Linked DNA regions of Homo sapiens. The protein of the gene in region 1 interacts with the protein of each later gene in a biochemical or structural test. Each region holds a gene or a part of one and is shown on either strand. Other genes may lie near its edges.

Region 1 (5,641 bases):
TAGGAGGCAAAATTGGTAAGTGAAAAAGAAGAGTAGATATTATCTAAATAGCTTCATACAATACCTGTTCTTTTTCTAAGTATTAAAAAATTGCATTTTCCTACTCCTACTACTTTTCTAAGTATACTATATGTATTAATAAAATGGTATATAGAAATTATTTTTTCACAGAAACTTAAAATTTATATGAGAGCATCCTTTTCATTGTGATGATAAAAAGTGCTTGAAGATTCTTGTTATCTGTTTAAATTACATCTTAGATTGACAATTGGCTTGGTTGATTAATATCTTATGTACATATTAATATATAATAACAATCAATATTATTATTAAGGTATATTATATGTAATATATGGTGTATTGAATAACTAATGATTTACCTGAATTAATTCATATTGATTATTAATTATATTAATGCATAGGCTATATATTAATACTGGGGTATTAATTCATATAAATAGCTTATTAATACTTATTAATACATAATATATTGATCAACCAAATCAAATTTGTCAACCTAAAACATATTTTAAACAGATTGTAACAATTTCTGCAAACAGTGAATGAGTGTCACAAATTTGATTCTTTCTTTTATTGCTTTTCATTGACAACAAAGGCATCATTACAGAAAGTAATAAAGGTGAGAGGGAAAAAATGCATGTAAATATTGTGAAGCTTTATATATATAAAATGTAAATCTCTGGTTGTCACCAGCTCAAAAATTAAGTACCAAGTAATAGATTATAAGTAAGCATCCAACAGATTTGCAATTAAATCTTTAATTTACCAAGAAGCCTCTTTTAAATTAGAATCGCTGCTGTGACAAATCTTTCTAAAATGGGTTAGTGGCATTGTCTTCTAAGAACCAGGGATATAACAGTATTTTAAAGTTATTATCTGAACATGTATTACCATTGATCATTGAAAGTGAACTACAGAAATTTCCTAGTGTTCTCTCTTTGAGATCTAAGTTCATGACGTCAGCAAATTTAAAATTCATCCACCTCTTCTTCATGGCAGTTGAATGAAAAGAAAGTTGATAACCTGTTTGAGGTTTGTGGTAGACACAACAGTGGCTAATGGATATTAAGAAATCATAATGATAGACGCAGCAGTCTATACAGAATGATCCCATAACTGTGTGCATCTTTAGACACTTTTCCCTGATTGCTTTTCAATAAATTCTTACATAATTGCTCCAAATTACTTTTTTCAATACTTTCATAATATTGCATCAAATATATGTTTTAAAAAGTCCACAAAATGAATTGCCTTTTTGTTTCAAAACTTAAAACACCATTTATCTGCCTCGAGACTATCCTAGGCAGACACTGTCTCTTCTTATAGATCCAAGAATTCTGCAAAAATACTTTTTTCCATAAGGGGTGAACATCCCAGTTTACTGCCTGTGTACTGCATTTAACTTGCTTATCCTGTCAAAACTGTGGGCATAAAAGTATGGGGCAAATAAGAAGTGTGTCAATTTACTGACTGAAATTCAGAAGCCATGTGCTGACCTAATGTTTCTAGTGGCACAGTTGTATCCAGCAGTAAAACCTGACCTAGTATGCATTATTTATTACCACATCATAGTATGTATACTAAGTCAAGCGTATAACTAATGTTGGGTTTTACCCCTGAGAAGGAGTATCTGCTTTATCATAAGCTACTGAATTATTTGGAAAGGTAAAATAATAATTATTTTGTCCAAATGATAAATCCAAGGTCAGAGTAACCATTTTGATACAAATGCTTTATGCCAACTGCCAGGTTTAATAAGAGCCAGAAAGAGCCATAGGTTCTGTAGGTTATACTTAGAAAATTCTAAGAAAATTCTCTACGACCAACCTGAAAGCAAAACATTTGGCAAAATCAGCACTTTTTACATAACTCATGAAATGTGTTTATTTTGTATTTTTAGATAAAATGTAATATATTTTATTTTCTTAAAGTAGTATACATACTACTGTACAAAGTACTATGTAGTTCCAAAATTGCACAACCTCCCCTATTACGTCAATCAGTAATCAAGTTATAAGGGCAGAACGATTGAGTTATTATGGAAACACGCACCAGGAGAGTGGACTTCCTGGGCCTTCTCCAGTAATTTTTCTGATGTTAACTCCAATAGAAAGAGTGTGACAACCTCAAAGAATACACATTAAAACTAAAAATATAAACCAATATATTTAAACATTTAAATACATCAAAATGGAATCATAAGGCAGACATTAAAAAAAAGAAAAAAACGTTTGACTTTTCAATAGCTCTTTTTCACATCTGTAAAATGTGGATAGTCATACCTGTACTGCTAACTTACACAGTTTTGTGGAAATAAACAAAGTTCATAACCAATCCCTTTATCAACCACAAAGCCTGTGAAAATAAAAAAATACTGGGCCTCTGATTTTTTTTTCAAACTAGATAGTGAGAAAACAGCTTGTAAATTAAATAACAAAACAAAAACCTAAGCAAGTATAAGCTGAGTATCATAAATACATGAGTTTTCTGTACTGTAGAAGAATACATATTAATGACATTTGTTTACTAATTCAAAGCACACTGTTACCTAAAATACCGATTTTTTTCCTGAAGACTCCAGAAGTCAAGCAAATGAAGAGGAAGATTGGGGAAAAGGAAGCAGTTGATTCACAACTGCATGTGCCAAAAAAGGAGTGGGAAGAAAAATGAGAGCCAATTTGGTCTATTATCTTTAATGGAGAGTGATGGCTAAACTCTGACACTGATAACTTTCAGCGTCAGGTGTCTGCTGAGTTTCTCTAAGCTCATTTGAATTCATTTAATAAGTGATTAGACTGGTAGGGTAGCTTTACAAATCTGCTTATGGTGAGCATTGAGTTGTTTATGCTTATTTCATTTTTTGTATAAGGAAAGGTAAACTGTATTTTCAAGGTGTGTTGTAAGATTTGCACTAAGAATCACAAAAAGAATCAAAAAACTTAGAATCACATAGCAAAAGTAGCAAATACATGTAATGCATCCTTTATTAACAGGCAGGTAATGGTATCAGAGGACCAGAATAACCTCTGCTCTATTTACTGTCTTCTTTGGAAAGAACTCCAGAACCAACCTTTTGGTTCCCCCAACTATTTATTGCCCTAATAGTCAAGGGGTAGAAGACAAAGAGTTGGCCAGAACTGAAATTCATTTTCTCTAAATTGGTTGTTCACAACCAATAATATTATTTTCCTCACAAAACTTTTCTTTTTAATAAGAAACAAAATCTTGCTCTATCACCCAGGCATGAGTGCGGTGTGTGGTCAAAGCTCACTGCAGCCTCAAACTCCTGTGTTCAAATGATCCCCCTGCCTCAGCCTCCCAAATTGCTGGATTACAGGTGCATGCCACCATATCCAGCTGATTTTTTCAAAATTTTTAATAAGATTTTAATTAATCTCACTATGTTGACCAGGCTGGTCTCAAACTCTTGGGCTCAAGCCTGCCAAAGTGTTGGGATTACAGGTGTAAGCCACTGCACCCAGCCTTACAAAACTTGAACAGTCATCACGCCACCCTTAGTCCTAACAATATCTTCTTTACATGATTCAGGCCAGGATGTCTCTGGTGCTGGGTTTTGGCCATCATCTCTGAACCCTCCAGGTTTCCCATCATTTGTAAACTATTAGTCTATGAGAATAAAAAATAATTTGCTCTCATTTTTCTATGTATTCTCACCCATTTTTAAGGGAAAGGTTTCAGGAAACACTAAAAATAACCCTCCAAAAATGAGAAAAACATTGTTTATAGAATTTCTACTTCCAGTTCAAAATTTCATCTATATTGTTAAGACTCTTAATATTCTTCAAAATTACTGAGGACCCCAAAAGTGCTATGATTATGTAAGTTATATCCGTTAATATCTATCATATTTGAAATTGAAAGAGAAAAATTTTTTAAATCACATTGAAAGAGACAATTCACAAACATAGACATATAAGTGGCCACTATGAAAATTGCTCAACTTTGTTCAACAAAGAAATGTAAATTTAAACAAGATACTATTTTCGTATATCAATTATCCAAGTTGTTGGATTTGTTGTCATTTGCTCTGTTTGATGATGGCACCCAGTATTGACATAGAAAACTCTACTCTTTTATATTGCTCATAAATGAATACCATATTCCTCAAGAGCAAAATGTCAAAAATAATCACTAGCATTCCATGAGATTTCGCTAAATATTTTAAAGAATCCTCAAAATACCCAACTATTATTATTTCTATTTTACAATTGAGAAGACAACATTTTAAGGAGATAAAGTAATTGGATTATCATCTCACAACTTGTAAGTAATAAAATTTTTTTTAGAACCTAGAAAATAAACTTTAAGAATCTACCATAAGGAAATAAACAAAAATGTATACTAACATATATAAAAAAGGTCCTAGATGAAATATTATTTATAATAGTGGAAAACTATTATAAATCTAAATATCCAACAATTATTTATAATAGTGGAAAACTAATCTATCTAAATATCCAACAAGATATAATTGGCCAGTACAGCCTATATACAGATGAAAAATTTCATATAGTAAGAACCATACTCTTTTGCTCATGGATAGATTGCCATTACTTGCATTACACACAGTAGGGACTTAATAATATTTGTTAAATATGTGAATACAAAGTAATGCATGATTATTAAAAAAAACATGTTTTAACAATGCATCTCATGAATGAGGGAGAAGCATGTTACAAAACAGCATGAACAGTGTGATCACAATTTTGTAAAACTACATGTATGTATAGAAACATATCTAGACATATAAACATGTATATACATGAACTTCTTGTCTGTCTCTTTGCTGATGCATACTGGGTACTCAATAGATATTTGTTGATTGAATTAATGATTGAATTACATTTTAAAAGTACCTTGGGGGAAATAATAGGTAATATTTTCTTTTTCTTCCTTGCAATTTTCTATATTTAATGAAATTTTAAGCAGTGAGTGTGATTTATCTTTATAATAAACAATAGTGTTATAAAAACTAATCATTCTGGGAAATGTCATTAGGAATTTTGGAATAAAAGTAGTAAATATAGACACCCCACAATCCAATAAAAAATAACTTGCATCTGATTTTCTTATTATGTTTCACTTACTGCATTCGGCAATAAAAGCAACAGATGTTACAGAAAAATGTCAAGCGTAATATTGTACAGTTAATTATTATTGGGGTTGAGTCTAGAACCTAGGTCACCTGGTTTCAGGCAAGCAGTTTTTTCCATTATACCAAGTTGCTTGGAGTTCTAGAATACCAATGAATAAATGACTATGTGGGTGCTACAATATCCACTGTTAGTTCCTTACTTATAAGTAAAATGATTTTATAATTAATCATTTTATATTATCAGAAAACTCCAAAGTTTTAAGAAATACTGCATTTTCATGTAATATGAATTGTCTTTGGGGATTTGTGAACTTCTTAAAGGTGTTTTTAAATTTGTGTGTGTTGGAATGGCATAATGTGCATTATTCTAGGGAGGGGTCCATACCTGTCACAAGATTATAAAAGTGTCTTTGATGGAACAAAAACAAAAGAAAGAAAAAGAAAAGAAAGAAAAAGTAAGAAAGAAAGAAAAAGAAAGAAAGAAAGAAAGAAAGAAAGAAAGAA
Region 2 (3,691 bases), on another chromosome or scaffold:
TTTGCAATCTGGAGTTCCTCAGCCTTCCCTATATGAAGGTCTGCAAAGCAAAAACACAAGCACGGGAATAGTATCGTTGTGACATATCTAGCTGGATGCAGAGACATGGTTTACAGTCAATAAATAATAAAAGGCTGTTTTTTCACTCCACATATGAAATAGACCAGCTCAAACTGAACAGAACCTGTGATCATATAAACACCCTGCTTTGGCCTGATTATAATTATCAGCAAGATGCACAAAGCACTATTTTGCACCACACAATCCCACATGGTGGTCAATCATAAGCTCAGGATCTACTTCAGTTCCCACACATTTCATAGCTTATGCAATAAAGCATGTTTCAGGACAATATTTCTAACATGGGATGTTTGCACAAGTGCCTGAGAGACAGATAGGTCAATAGAAAGGATCAGCGTATCCAAAGATCTATTTTCTTCCCCTCCTTCCTCCCCTCCCACCAACCCCTCTCCCCTTAGGCAGAAGCGGAGGAGAAACGACCAATAAGGAAAGTCGTGGAGAGACTGGAGTGTTTTACATTTTAGATTTTACTTTCTTGTGTCGTTTTACAAAAGAAAGGTATTAATTACCTTGGAAAGGCTGGCGACTGGTGAGGGACTGAAGGTAAAGAAATATTTTCCTTTGCAATCAACTGTGCATACACAAACAAAGGTAACCAAATTGTAAGTTTTTCAAATTCCTGAGAGTGAAGTTCACGTAACAGAAATGGCTTACGCAACAGAAGCCTCAGAGGAAAAGATTGGTGGATCCATTACATCTAACTTAGAATGACTTTCAGGAAACGTATTTTTCTTGCCCATATTTTTTTTCTGGTGGAAGGGGGCCATTTTTAGTCACTACAAAAGGAAGAAAGGGGGTTGGGTGCCCACAGATGCTCCAGGACAAAGGCCCTGCCCAGCCCACCTCACCGTGTCTCCAATCTTGAGTCCCATACAAGACTTGAGGCCAGGGATGACCTCATTGTTGAGGCAGGTGGCATTGAAGGATAGAGACAACTCTTCAGGGAGGTCACGCACTTCCAGCTCTACTTTAGAACGGATTTTCTGAGCAGAAAGGGGCACAAGAAGACAAGAAATTGAACTGAAAGGAAACGGGAAATGGCAAGAGCCAGTTCCATCCCAAGCCAAATCTGGCAAGTAGCTCTGGACTCACCCCAGCAGTGCCAGAGGCCAAGGTTTGACCTGGAAGCTGCCGGAGCACCCCTAGGACTCTGTTTCCTGCGCAGGAACCTGCTCCCTCTTTCCATCTCCACTTGCGTCTAGGTGAGTCTGGGTAAAATGTACCAGCTACACCCTCCTGCAGGCCTCACAGATGTTGCAAAAGGGGAGTGCCAATACTGGTCACCTTGGAAAGTGGCATTTTCTACCTAATGTTTCATCAACCTCACCTTCCCCATGTCTCAGCTCTCTCTTTTCCCTGTTATTGGAGCCCAGTTTTCCCTCACTCTGCCCCCACAATTCCAGGGCTCTGCTCCTTCTCCATCTAATCACCATCCCCATCCCCATCTTCTTTCCTTCTTTCTCTCTTCCTTCCTTCCTTCCTTCCTTCTCAGAAGGCTGCATCCCTTCTAGAGCGGGCCATTGCCTGGGCTCTGGGAGCACACGGAGAAGGCAGTAAGACCGTGTGGTAGACTGGCAACTGGGACTCACAAATCTGAGCCCTGCTGTGTAAGCCAAATGAGGTGGACTCTCCGCGGGACTATTCCCAGCACAAGACACTTACCCCATAAGCATCAACAATGAGCTGGAGGACATTGCTGGAATCCATGGACAGAACCCCAACTGTGGTCCCTGGGATGAGCTCACTATAGTTCTAGAAAGGAAAACAAAGATGTCCAGAGCTTACCAAAGGAAGCTGGTGGTCTCCAAAAGCCCTCCCCAAATCCCACTGAGAGTCCTGAGATGAAGATTGGAGGAAGGTACGGGATATTTCAATTGTCACTGCCAGGAATATATCTAGCAGTTTTTCAGCCCTGAGCAAAAGTAGAGGAAACCTCTCACACCCCTCACCACCTCCCCTCCACCACCACAAACACCAACACATACCTAGTAAGTTCAAGATTGCAGGAAAAAGGCCCAGAGTGCAATCTTTAGCTCCTGGGGAGTGGATTAGGGGAGACTCTTTCCTGATTGGGGACTGTATCCAATGCTAGCACAGGCTGGCTACCTGGGGCACCCACCATCACAGGGCCCACTCCAGGAAGCCCGAAGGCACAGTCACCTGATAGAGATTGACTACATTTTCAGTCACTGCAAAGATCAAATTGATGTTTTTCTGGGATAGCTTCTCAGTCATCAGCCCCAAAGAGGGATAATCCTAGGAAAATGAAGGATGTAGAGGTTAATGACGTCTCATGTACATCTCTAGGGTCTAAAGCTTAGAACTTATCTTGCTTGGGCTGTGGCTCAGAGTGTGGTGGTGCTTAAACCATTTCACTTCATGCTGAAAGTGAGACAAGAGCCTGGGCAACATAGCAAGACCCCATCTCTACAAAAAAATTTTTTTTATTTGCCAGATGTGGTGGTAAGTGCCTATAGTCCTAGCTACTGGGGAGGCTGAGGCAGGATCACTTCAGCCCAGGAGTTGGAGGTTACAGTGAGCTATGATTGCACCACTGCACTCCAGCCTGGGCAGCAGAGCAAGACTCTGTCTCTAAAAAAAAAAGGGGGGTGACAGTGAGATAAGAAGGGTAAGTAGCACAGAAGTCTACTTGTGAACTCCAGGGATAGACGAAGAGGTACAGGCCAGTGGTGTCAAAACTAAGCACCTCTTTCTTCCTGCTTGAATTTAATGCACTAATACTATGGAGCTGCTTCCGTGCACAAGGGACTGGGTTAGGCCTCTGTTTTGGAACTACTGACAAATGCCTTGGCCTGGCCCTCGTGATCCTCCACCGTGTGGTCTCAGTCTTTCTTTCCAAATATTGCTCACCTCTCTCCCTCTTCCACTCAGCAGTGATCTGGCCCACTGTCTCCCACCTGGAGTGGCCTTCTTGTTGGTAATCCTCCTCCTTTCTTAGGGCCTAGCTTAGCCCCCACCTTCTTCAGGAGACTTCCTTGGCCATCCCAGCTCATGATGACCTTTCCTCCCTTGGATACGTATAGCCACATTGGCTGTGCCACACCCATTTGGCACTAATCATGCATCTTGTGTTATTGTAAATATATATATCCTTTCTCCTCAAGTAGACCAAAAACTCCCCAAGGATAGAACCATACATAGTCTTGTTACCTCCCTCAGCCCCTGGCCCAGTGCCTTGCATAGATTAGGGGTCAAATGTTGCTGACTCATTGTCTGGTAGTGCTTGACTTGGATATGGCTGACACCAAGGAACTCAAGGACACTGTGCGGGGGCGGTGGTGAATCGTGAACATGTCCATGGGATCCTAGACCTTGCAGGGAGCTCATTAGATCCTCAGCTCAGTCTCCTGCCTTTACACAGGTACACCTTTAAGTCACCTAGATGAGGAAGTTGCTATATTGTCCTTAGGAGACGAAGAGTTCACACCTGCCCCAGATACCTAGAGCATTACAGCACATTTCTCTTATGGCTTATAGTAATTTCTCCTGATTCAATTTAAATATTTTCCTCTTGTTTAACCTTCTATGGCCATATAAAACAACTTATAAGAAGTTTTCTCATGTATAAGCTAAATCATCCTTTAGCCTT

What was found. The genes of interacting proteins can lie anywhere in the genome.
Region 2: the proteins of PLA2G4A (region 1) and ITGB3 form a complex in vitro, tested with the Homo sapiens proteins (one study listed by BioGRID).

What each region holds. Positions count from the first base shown.
Region 1 is NC_000001.11:186,830,988-186,836,628, reverse strand, and holds part of PLA2G4A (cytosolic phospholipase A2), read right to left. Parts: intron 1-5,641. UniProt on the Homo sapiens protein: Has primarily calcium-dependent phospholipase and lysophospholipase activities, with a major role in membrane lipid remodeling and biosynthesis of lipid mediators of the inflammatory response.
Region 2 is NC_000017.11:47,288,327-47,292,017, reverse strand, and holds part of ITGB3 (integrin beta-3 precursor), read right to left. Parts: intron 2,338-3,691; coding exon 2,242-2,337; intron 1,834-2,241; coding exon 1,744-1,833; intron 1,065-1,743; coding exon 930-1,064; intron 1-929. UniProt on the Homo sapiens protein: Integrin alpha-V/beta-3 (ITGAV:ITGB3) is a receptor for cytotactin, fibronectin, laminin, matrix metalloproteinase-2, osteopontin, osteomodulin, prothrombin, thrombospondin, vitronectin and von Willebrand factor.